Linked DNA regions of Homo sapiens: region 1 is linked to region 2. A link means that fine-mapping ties the variant in region 2 to the expression of a gene that starts in the linked region. Tissue or cell type: sigmoid colon. Region 2 holds a variant in brackets; the other region holds the start of a gene. All regions are shown on one strand. Distances are between the middles of the regions.

What was found. PIP is the estimated chance that this variant, and not a neighbour inherited with it, causes the effect.
Region 1: DNAH1 starts here. The variant in region 2 is fine-mapped to the expression of DNAH1 in sigmoid colon (GTEx, PIP 0.94).

What each region holds. Positions count from the first base shown.
Region 1 is chr3:52,313,883-52,318,373 of GRCh38, forward strand. DNAH1 (dynein axonemal heavy chain 1) reads left to right here and starts at 2,437. Exons shown (of 78, transcript NM_015512.5): 1 at 2,437-2,663. RefSeq lists enhancers at 1-134, 2,951-3,889 and a silencer at 3,828-4,057.
Region 2 is chr3:52,760,071-52,764,561 of GRCh38, forward strand. It overlaps NEK4 (NIMA related kinase 4), which reads right to left. Exons shown (of 16, transcript NM_003157.6): 5 at 3,400-3,554; 6 at 725-866. Among named protein-coding and RNA genes, the nearest start is that of NEK4, 8.6 kb to the right of the region's middle. The variant C/T (reference allele first, on the strand shown) is at 2,591.

The sequences.
Region 1 (4,491 bases), 450 kb before region 2:
GCAGAAGAAAAACTGAGGCCTAACAAAGGAAGGGACTTGCCCGGTGAGTCATCAGAATAATCCAGGCCTCCTGCCCCGTCCAGAGCCCTTTCTAGGGGTGGATGAAAGGTCAGGCTGGCAGTCTGGTCCCCAAAGTGGCCAGCCTTGGGGGATGAGTGGATGGGAGGGCTCAGCTAAGCCTCAGCAAACCCAGGCTCCCTGGAAGGTGGGAGTGGGGGCACTTGGTGGGTCACAGGGCCAAGTTGATGAAGTCACCCACTCTGCCAAGATATTACTCCAGCTGACGCTCACCAAACTCCTTGGGACTGAGGAAAAATCAGAGGTGCTCAGAGCCTAATTATAATAAACAGTTTCCTGTGCAGCTCCTGGAGCCCCCCTGGGAAATGTCCTGTGGAAGATGTCTTTGTCTCAGAGCCTGCCATCTGGCGCTTTGGCCCAGGAAGGTGGGGACCAACAGGCATCCCCCCCTTGGGCCGCTGCTCCTGGAGCGCAGAGCCTCAGCATCCTGCACCCTCAGATGGAGGTCAGAGAAAAATAGGCTGGGGGAGAGGAGGTGAGGGTGGGATCATGTGGGGTCATGTGCAACTGGGCTGGTGTCAACAGCCACTATCTTTGAGGTGATGGCCCCGATGTGGGTTGCTCTATCTTCCAGTCATTTCTATGGGTCTTTCCTGGACTGACGCATGGGCAGGGCTGCTGAGAAAAGCTGTGCCTCTGCCCCAGCACCCCCTGACCCCATCCATCAAGTCCACCCTCCAGTTGGGAGAAACAGCAGTGACCATCACATGGTAGGGAGTGAGTCATCTACCAAGTGGTACTGACCATGGTCCTCTGGGGCCCTGAGGAGAGTGTGTGTTCTGTTGGCCAAGGCACTCAGGGAGTGTGTCCTGAGAAGTAGCCCAAGATGGCATGGAAGATCATAGAAAAACAAAGAGGGAAGAGGCTCCGGCAGGGAGGCTGCACAGGAGTAAAGGTGGGCAGGGGATTAGGTGGGGGCTGTGATGGATGAAGATTGTCTGTTCATGGGCCAGTGGTCTTCAGTCCACCAGCCCCGGAGAAACTCTGTTCTACTCCTTGCTTGAGCTCTGGGCTTTCAAGGTCTTGTCTGTCAAGGTGATCATGTGGATCAAAGGAGAATTAAATTTTCTCCATTTTTATTCATCAAAGAAATGATTATGCTGGTCAGAACTGCTGAGGGCAGCTGAGCAATGGCAGGGAGGCTTATGTCGGGGAGGCCTGGGGAGGCAGTGAATCGTAGACCTCACCCATTCCCTTCTCTGACACCCCCCGCCCCCGATGCCTGCAACTCACTTTCTTGTGGCATAGCTCAGAGCTCCAGGCCTAGAAAATCAGAGGAAGATCCTGGGGGCCCAAGAGGGAGGCTGGGGACAGGTGGGGAGCGGGTAGCTCAGCCACTCAGTCTGGATGCCTGTCACCTTCCGTTCTGGCTGGCCAGCCACATGAAGGGCCCATTCTGCTGCCCATTCACAAGGGGCTTTCATCTCTGCAGCCAGTGAAGCATTGCTCCCATCTCAGCCAGCAAGGAGACACAGGGGAGGGGGTGTGCAGACTTGCCATGACCTCAGACTCCATGCTGGAAAGGCATGGCCCTGGGCCAGGGCATCCTAAGCAGCCCATCTGCCCCAATCCCCCAGCTTCCAGGCCACCAGAGTCCTCAGCAAGGGGGATCTGAGTAAGAGATGGGCAGTGACTCCCCAACTCTTGTAGAAACCTAGTCCTCCCATTTCAACAAGGGTAAGGCTGACCTCTCTTCCAGCTTATTCAGGGCAAAAGATGGCCCTCCCATCACAAGAGGGGCAGGAGTCCAGTGGGTCATGGCTCAGCCCCCTGCTCCTTTCCCAGGGAGCAAGGTAAGTATGGTGGCCTTCAGGACAGGGCAGGAAGACCAAAGCCTGAACCCTTGCGCAGCCATGGGAGAAGACAGCACATTAGAGGGTAGCCCCTGAGACCCAGGAGAACAGGGACTGACTCACGGTGTCCTTCCAGGGAGGAGGGAGGCAGTCATATCCACAGCCCGCCCTTGAAGAGGGGCGAAGTGGAGCTGGCAGGGCTGCTGGTAAAAGCAGCACCCCCGACCCCCACCCCTCAAGTCCATTCTCCAGTTGGGAGAAACAGCAGTGACCATCACATGGTAAGCAGTGAGTGGTTCTGTGAGCTGGGCCTCCTGAGAGTGGACCCTTTCAGCTGTGGCCTGTCCATCTGTCCAGCAGCCACAGCCCCTGTGATGTCACCAGCCCACTGTGTTGCTTGGCAACTTTCCAGGATTAGCATTCTGCCCCTCTCATCCCTGACATCCCACCATAGGCTGATGTTGCCATGGCAACCCGGATAGATGCTGCAGCTTTTTGGACAGCTGTACCTAGTGTGGGAAGTGCCAGGCAAAAGCAGGGAAGCAGGTGCCTCTCTACAGGCCAAGGGGGGTACCCAACCTATACGCAGACCCATTGAGCAGCCAGACTGCCCTAAACAGGGCTATGGAGTCCTTGTCCCTTCTAAGAGCTGTGGACACCTTGCCTCCAGTTCCCCTCACAGTCCTTTCTTCCTTCTGCAGTGATCACTGAGTACCTGTGTGAATGCCAACAAGAAAAATAAAACCACAGTTTGGATTCAGGAAAGGTTGCACCACCATCAGGTCTTGAAGGGTGAGTAGGAGTCCGCCAGATGCAGGAGTGGATGGAGACAGGTTCTAGACAGAGGAAGCAGAAGCCTGTGCAAGGGCTGAACCACTGTCTCCAGGCATAGATTACACCCTGCCTCTAGGTTCCTCATGGCCTGGCCTCTCCATCTTTCCCACTCAATACACTTTATGGTGGGGATAGGGTCCAGTTCAGTTCCAGACACTTAGTGCCCAGCAACAGGCCTGGCACCAAGCCAGCACGACTAAAATGCCAAGTAAAATTCAACATCAGGGCCTATGACCTCCCCTAGTACTAACCGTCTCAGCAAGTCTGTTTCCCCATCTGTGAAATGGGGCCAGTTTTGAGAAGGCTGTGGGCAGGGGTTCTCAGGTACAGATGGGGTGATGTTTTTCTTTTGGTTCTTTTGGTTTGTAAACCACTTCTTTCCCTTACAGAAAAAATTGGAAGACTAGTACATGGACATCTGTGACCTTCAGATTCCCTAATTGTTATATTGCAGCACTTTTGCTTTATCTCCTCTTTGTCTTTTTATCTAGCTATGCTTACCTATATGTATAATTTTTGCTGAACCATTTGAAAGGAAATTGTAGCGGACATTCTGACGTGTTTCTTCAAACACTTCAGGCCACGTCAACTAAGGACAGTCTGATACAACCACAGTAGCATTATCACATCTAAGAAAATTAACAATAATTCAATATTCAGAATAGGGCAGGAAGATCAAAACCTGAACCCATGCCAGGTGCTGAGAGCAGATGAGGGGCATCAGAGGGTGGGCGCCCGAGCCGAGGGGTGTCGGGCGCATCCGCTGCCCAGCGGAAGCGGCGGCCTGAGTGGAGTCACCGTGCAATGGGTGGGTGTGGCTTTGTGAGCCAAGCCCCAGGAGAACCAGAACCCACCTTTTCCTCAGTGCCCTGACCAGCTGTCCCGCAGCTGTGGCTTAAATGCCAACTTCCAGTTCGTAAATTTCTTCAATTATTCCTCCCCAAATTATTTACATATGTATATGTATTTAAATCAGGATTTAATCAAAGTTCTCACGCTGCATTTAGCTGTTTCGCTGCTTACTCTAAAAGGGCACAGGAGGGAAGATGGGTGGGTAATGGAGCCTAGAAGAGTGACGCTCCCTGGTCGGCCCTAATCCTGCCGATCGGGGCATATGCTGGAACATCCCAGTCCCACTGTCCTGGGCGGAAGTAACCGAGACCTGGAGTTGGTGGGTAGGTAAGGGTTCAGGCTGGGGAGGTTCGCGGACGGAAGCTCCCGCCCTGCGGTGCCGGATGGCCCCGCCCCTTAGCAACGGCCTAGCGTCCCTCCCTAGAGACGGGGCTGATGCATCCCCGCACTGCTCGGTGGAACCGGTACGTCGGTGAGGCGGAGGGGTTGCGGGGCCAGCGCGGGCAGCGGGACCTCGAAAAGGCGCGGAGGGCGAGTGGACGAGGGTGGGGAATGGGGTCTCCCAGGAGTCTGGTTGCTGAGCCTTGGCCAGGGGGAAAGAAGGGAGGTGCACTTTATTTTATTATTTTTGAGACGGAGTCTCGCTCTGTCGCCCAGGCTGGAGTGCAATGGCGCGATCTCGGCTCACTGCAACCTCCACCTCCCGGGTTCAAGCGATTCTCCAGCCTCAGCCTCCTGAATAGCTGGGATTATACGCACCCGCCATCATGCCGGCTAATTTTTGTGTTTTTGTAGAGACGGGGTTTCACCCTGTTGACCAAGCTGGTCTTAAACTCCTGACCTCGGGTGATCCGCCCGCCTGGGCCCAAGTGTTTGGATTACAGGCGTGAGCCACTGCGCCCGGCCTGGAGGTGCACTTCAAACAGCCTTGCAG
Region 2 (4,491 bases):
AATGGGAGTGACTGCTTAATGAGGAAGAGATTTCCTTTGGGGTGATGAAAATGTTTTGGAACTACATAGAAGTGACGGTTGCACTACACTGTGAATGTACTGGCCACATTTAATTGATCACTTTATTTATTTATTTTATTTTATTTATTTTTATTTTTATTTTTGAGACAGTGTCTCATTCTGTCACCCAGGCTGGAGTGCAGTAGTGCAGTCTTGGCTCACTGCAACCTCCACCTCCCAGGTTCAAGCGATTCTCCTCCCTCAGCCTCCTGAGTAGCTATGACTACAGGTACATGCCACCACAGCCAGCTAATTTTTGTATTTTTAGTAGAGATGAGGGTTCACCATGTTGGCCAGGCTGGTCTTGAACTCCTGACCTCAGGTGATCTGCCAGCCTCGGCCTCCCAGAGTGCTGGGATTGCAGGCATGAGCCACCGCGCTCAGCCTTAACTGTTTACTTTAAAATGGTTAATTTTGTTATATAAATTTCACCTAAAAAATTCTTAAAGTTATTACAGCACTGACTTTGTGAACAATTTGACAGCCCAATTTGGATAAAGCTAAATCAATCACCTTAACCAGTATTCTTTCTTTACAGTAAGGAATTAATTGTACAACAGAATCTCTAGTAAAGCATAATCATTTCACACAAAATAATTTGCTTAGATGGCCCATTTTTCTAAGTGCAGTTTCTAAAACACATACCCTTTAAAAAGAAACGTACCATTATATATGTCTGGGAGCCCTCAGAAGAGAGTGGTTGGGGGTGGATTACTTCATGATTTGATTCTGCCTCTCCAGAAACCACTGTAGCAAAAGGCTTGGATTGAGAGTCACCATTTTTAATGTTATTTTTGGAGGTTTTTCTTTATAAAGAAGAAAAGAAAGAGTTATTATCAATATACTGAAGATTAAGGGTTTTTAGGTATATGTGGGAGTGTGTGTATACAATGAATTCCCTTACAGAACTGCACCATTTATAGAGAATAGTTTTCTAAAAATCTAAGGGGCATCCTACAAAACACCTCACCAGTAGTCTTTGAAACAATCAAGGTCATAAAAAATAAACAAAGTGAGAAACAATCACAGACCCCTGATTAGATGTACTATATCCTGGATTGGATCCTGGAACAGAAAAGAGACATTAGAGAAAAAAACTGGTGAAAGCCAAAGAAAGTCTGGAATTTAGTCAATAGTAATATTTTTCTTTCTTTTTTTAAAAAATTGAGACAGAGTTTCACTCTGTCATCCAGGCTAGAGTGTAGTGGCGTGATCTCAGCTCACTGCAACCTCCGCTGCCCAGGTTCAAGTGATTCTTGTGCCTCAGCCTCCCGAGTAGCTGGGACTACAGGTGCACGCCACCACGCCCGGCTAATTTTTTTGTATTTTTTTTTTAGTAGAGACGGGGTTTTGCCATGTTGGCCAGGCTGGTCTTAAACTCCTGACCTCAGGTGATCTGCCAGCCTCGGCCTCCCAAAGTGCTGGGATTACAGGCGTGAGCCACCATGCATGGCCAAGTCAATAGTAATATTTCGATGTTGGTTTCTTAGTTTTGACAAATGCATTAGGGTATGTAATCTGGTAATCACAGAAGAAACTAGATGAGGGGTATACAGGAACTCTCCACTCTATCTTTCCAACTTTTCTGTTTATACAAAATTATTCCAAAATAAAAATTCTATGGGAGATTGCCTCACATACGGGAGTATCAGGTTAATTTTCATTTTCAAATTTTACATGTCTGTAATAATACCACAACTGCTTGGCTAACTTTGAGAGTAAAACTGATTGGTACACTTAGTCCTGCTTATAGAATAAATGCATACAGGAATAACATCCCCAACTATTTTAGTATGTCATTTCTAAAACTGGGCTAAACCTCTGGAGAATTCAAGAGGAGCATGGAGATCAGTACACTGGAAGGCCAAAGGTCTGCTTGGTGGGAAATTATGTACACAAAAAGATGGTTCTTCTTTATTCCCTGAGGCATCTCTAGCACTGCCTCCTCTCTTTCCAAATTTAACATGCCACAAGGCAAGAGGAGAAGCCAAACAGATTGTAATAGTTTTGTCCAGCCCTAAGTCTTAGATCCTGGAACACCTGTTTAGTAAAGGTAGGATCTGCAAGCCAAAGCAAGGAATTCTCTTGGGAAGTTAATGTGAATGAAGAGGGAACTTTATGCAAGCTCTCAGAAATGTGAGCACTACTTTTTAAATATTACTATCTTACACAGTAAGATGTATAGGTTTCTCAGATAATCTCTAATTATATGATTTCTAAAACATATGCCCTCTTTTTTTTTATTATTATTTGGCTGCTCCTTGAGAACAGGACTAACTCATAGGCAGTGAGCCCAGAGTAGTGCATATGTCCTTTAAAAAAAAATTTACACTATATGTCTTAGAACCCTCTGAGGAATGTGACAGTGGTTCTCCAAATTTCTGATTTTAGCAATTAAGCAAATTTCAACATGTATTTGAAGACTGGGAGAATATGCCACGCCAAAATATGCTACTTTGGCATAAAGATTATTTTGGGCTAAGGTTCTTTAAAAAGTAAGTGCAAGCTTTGGGAGGCCGAGGTGGGCGGA[C/T]CACGAGGTCGGGAGTTCAAGACCAGCCTGGCCAACATGGGGAAACCCTGTCTCTACTAAAACTACAAAAATTAGCCGGGCACGGTGGCGGGTGCCTGTAATCCCAGCTACTGGGGAGGCTGAGGCAGGAGAATTGCTTGAACCCGGGAGGCGGAGGTTGCAGTGAGCTGAGATCATGCCACTGCACTCCAGCCTGGGTGACACAGCAAGACTCCATCTCAAAAAAAAACAAACAAAAAAAAGTAAGTGCAAGAAGGGCACTCTGATCTTCCCTTTTTCTTCCAGAAAGCAGAAGATAAAACTCCCATATGAAATACGTCCTCCCTGTACCAGAAGGAAAGTAACATTCTTATTATCAAGAATGGAAAGCTGAAACTGAGAGAATTCTATAAACAGACCTTATTAAAATAATTCTTATCTTCCTTTAGCCTCTCCACCTAGTTTACTTTTCCACAATTGCCTCTCTTTGTTCAATCAAGCAAAAAGCATTTAGGTTTTGCCACTTCTTTGTATTTTTAGTAGAAGTTAGGTCTTCATTTCCTTATGAGGGCTCCTGTGTCACATAAAACTTATTCAGGTATTAAAGAAATCTACATGCTTTTCTCCTGTTAAATTATAAGTTTAATTCTCAAGCTCAGCCAAGAAACCCTAAGAGGGTAGAATTTTGCCTCCTCTACATATGTAATCATGCCATTTTATTTCTTGTTTTTAAGAAAACTCACCATTAATTCTTGCATATGAATATTACAGAAGCCACCCTCTTTCACCCCATCTATTTAGCCCAGCTATTTGCAAGGGAAGTATCTTACATCTTTGTGGCCTCCAAAAAGAAGGAGATTTGCCGCTTTATATAAGGCTGCCTCAGGATGCTCCTCACAGACGGCCTTTCTTCAGGCCTTTTGCTCAGCATTGTTCTTATCAGTTCTGCCAGCTCTGGGCTGTAATCTCTTGGCATTGGTGGCAGCTACAAATAAAAATAATATTGTAATTATGACTAATGGTCTTGTGAAACAAAGTAAAAGCTGGTAGAGGTTTCCCAATATTTATTTATAGTCATATGTCCACATAAGCAGAAAACAATCAGTATATTAGTCTACAGGAAGTGTACTGGTATCCCAGTTGTAAGATAACAAGTTGTAAAATTATAAAAGTATATCCTCCAACCCAGCAGTCCCATCTGATGACACTCTCATTCAGAAATAAGAGTATGAGTTTCCTAAAGACTTATGTATCGGGATGTTCAATGCAGTACTGTTCTTGCAGTAGTAAACAATTGGAAACATAAATGTCCCTTAGGGGATTTGTGGAATAAATTATCATGCATTCTTCTTATAAAAACTAGGGCCAGTCGCAGTGGCTTACGCCTGTAATCCCAGCACTTTGGGAGGCCGAGGCAGGTGGATTGCCTGAGGTCAGGAGTTTGAGACCAGTCTGGCCAACATGGTGAAACCCCGTCTCTACTAAAAATACAAAAAAATTAGCTGGGCGTGGTGGCATGCACCTGTAATCCCAGTTACTCAGGAGGCTGAGGCAGGGGAATTGCTTGAACCAGAGAGGTGGAGGTTGCGGTGAGCCGAGATCACGCCACAGCACTCCAGCCTGGCAACAGAGCGAGACTCTGTCTCAAAAAAAAAAAAAAAGAAAGAAAAGAAACGAAACTAGGCAGCAGGTTAAAAAATACAAGACTTGGGCCGGGTGCAGTGGCTCACACCTGTAATCTCAGCACCTTGGGAGGCCGAGGCGGGTGGATCATGAGGTCAGGAGATGGAGACCATCCTGGCTAACACAGTGAAACCCCATCTCTACTAAAAATACAAAAAAGTGGACGGGCGTGGTGGCGGGCACCTGTAGTCCCAGCTACTTGGGAGGCCGAGGCAGGAGAATGGCGTGAACCCGAGAGG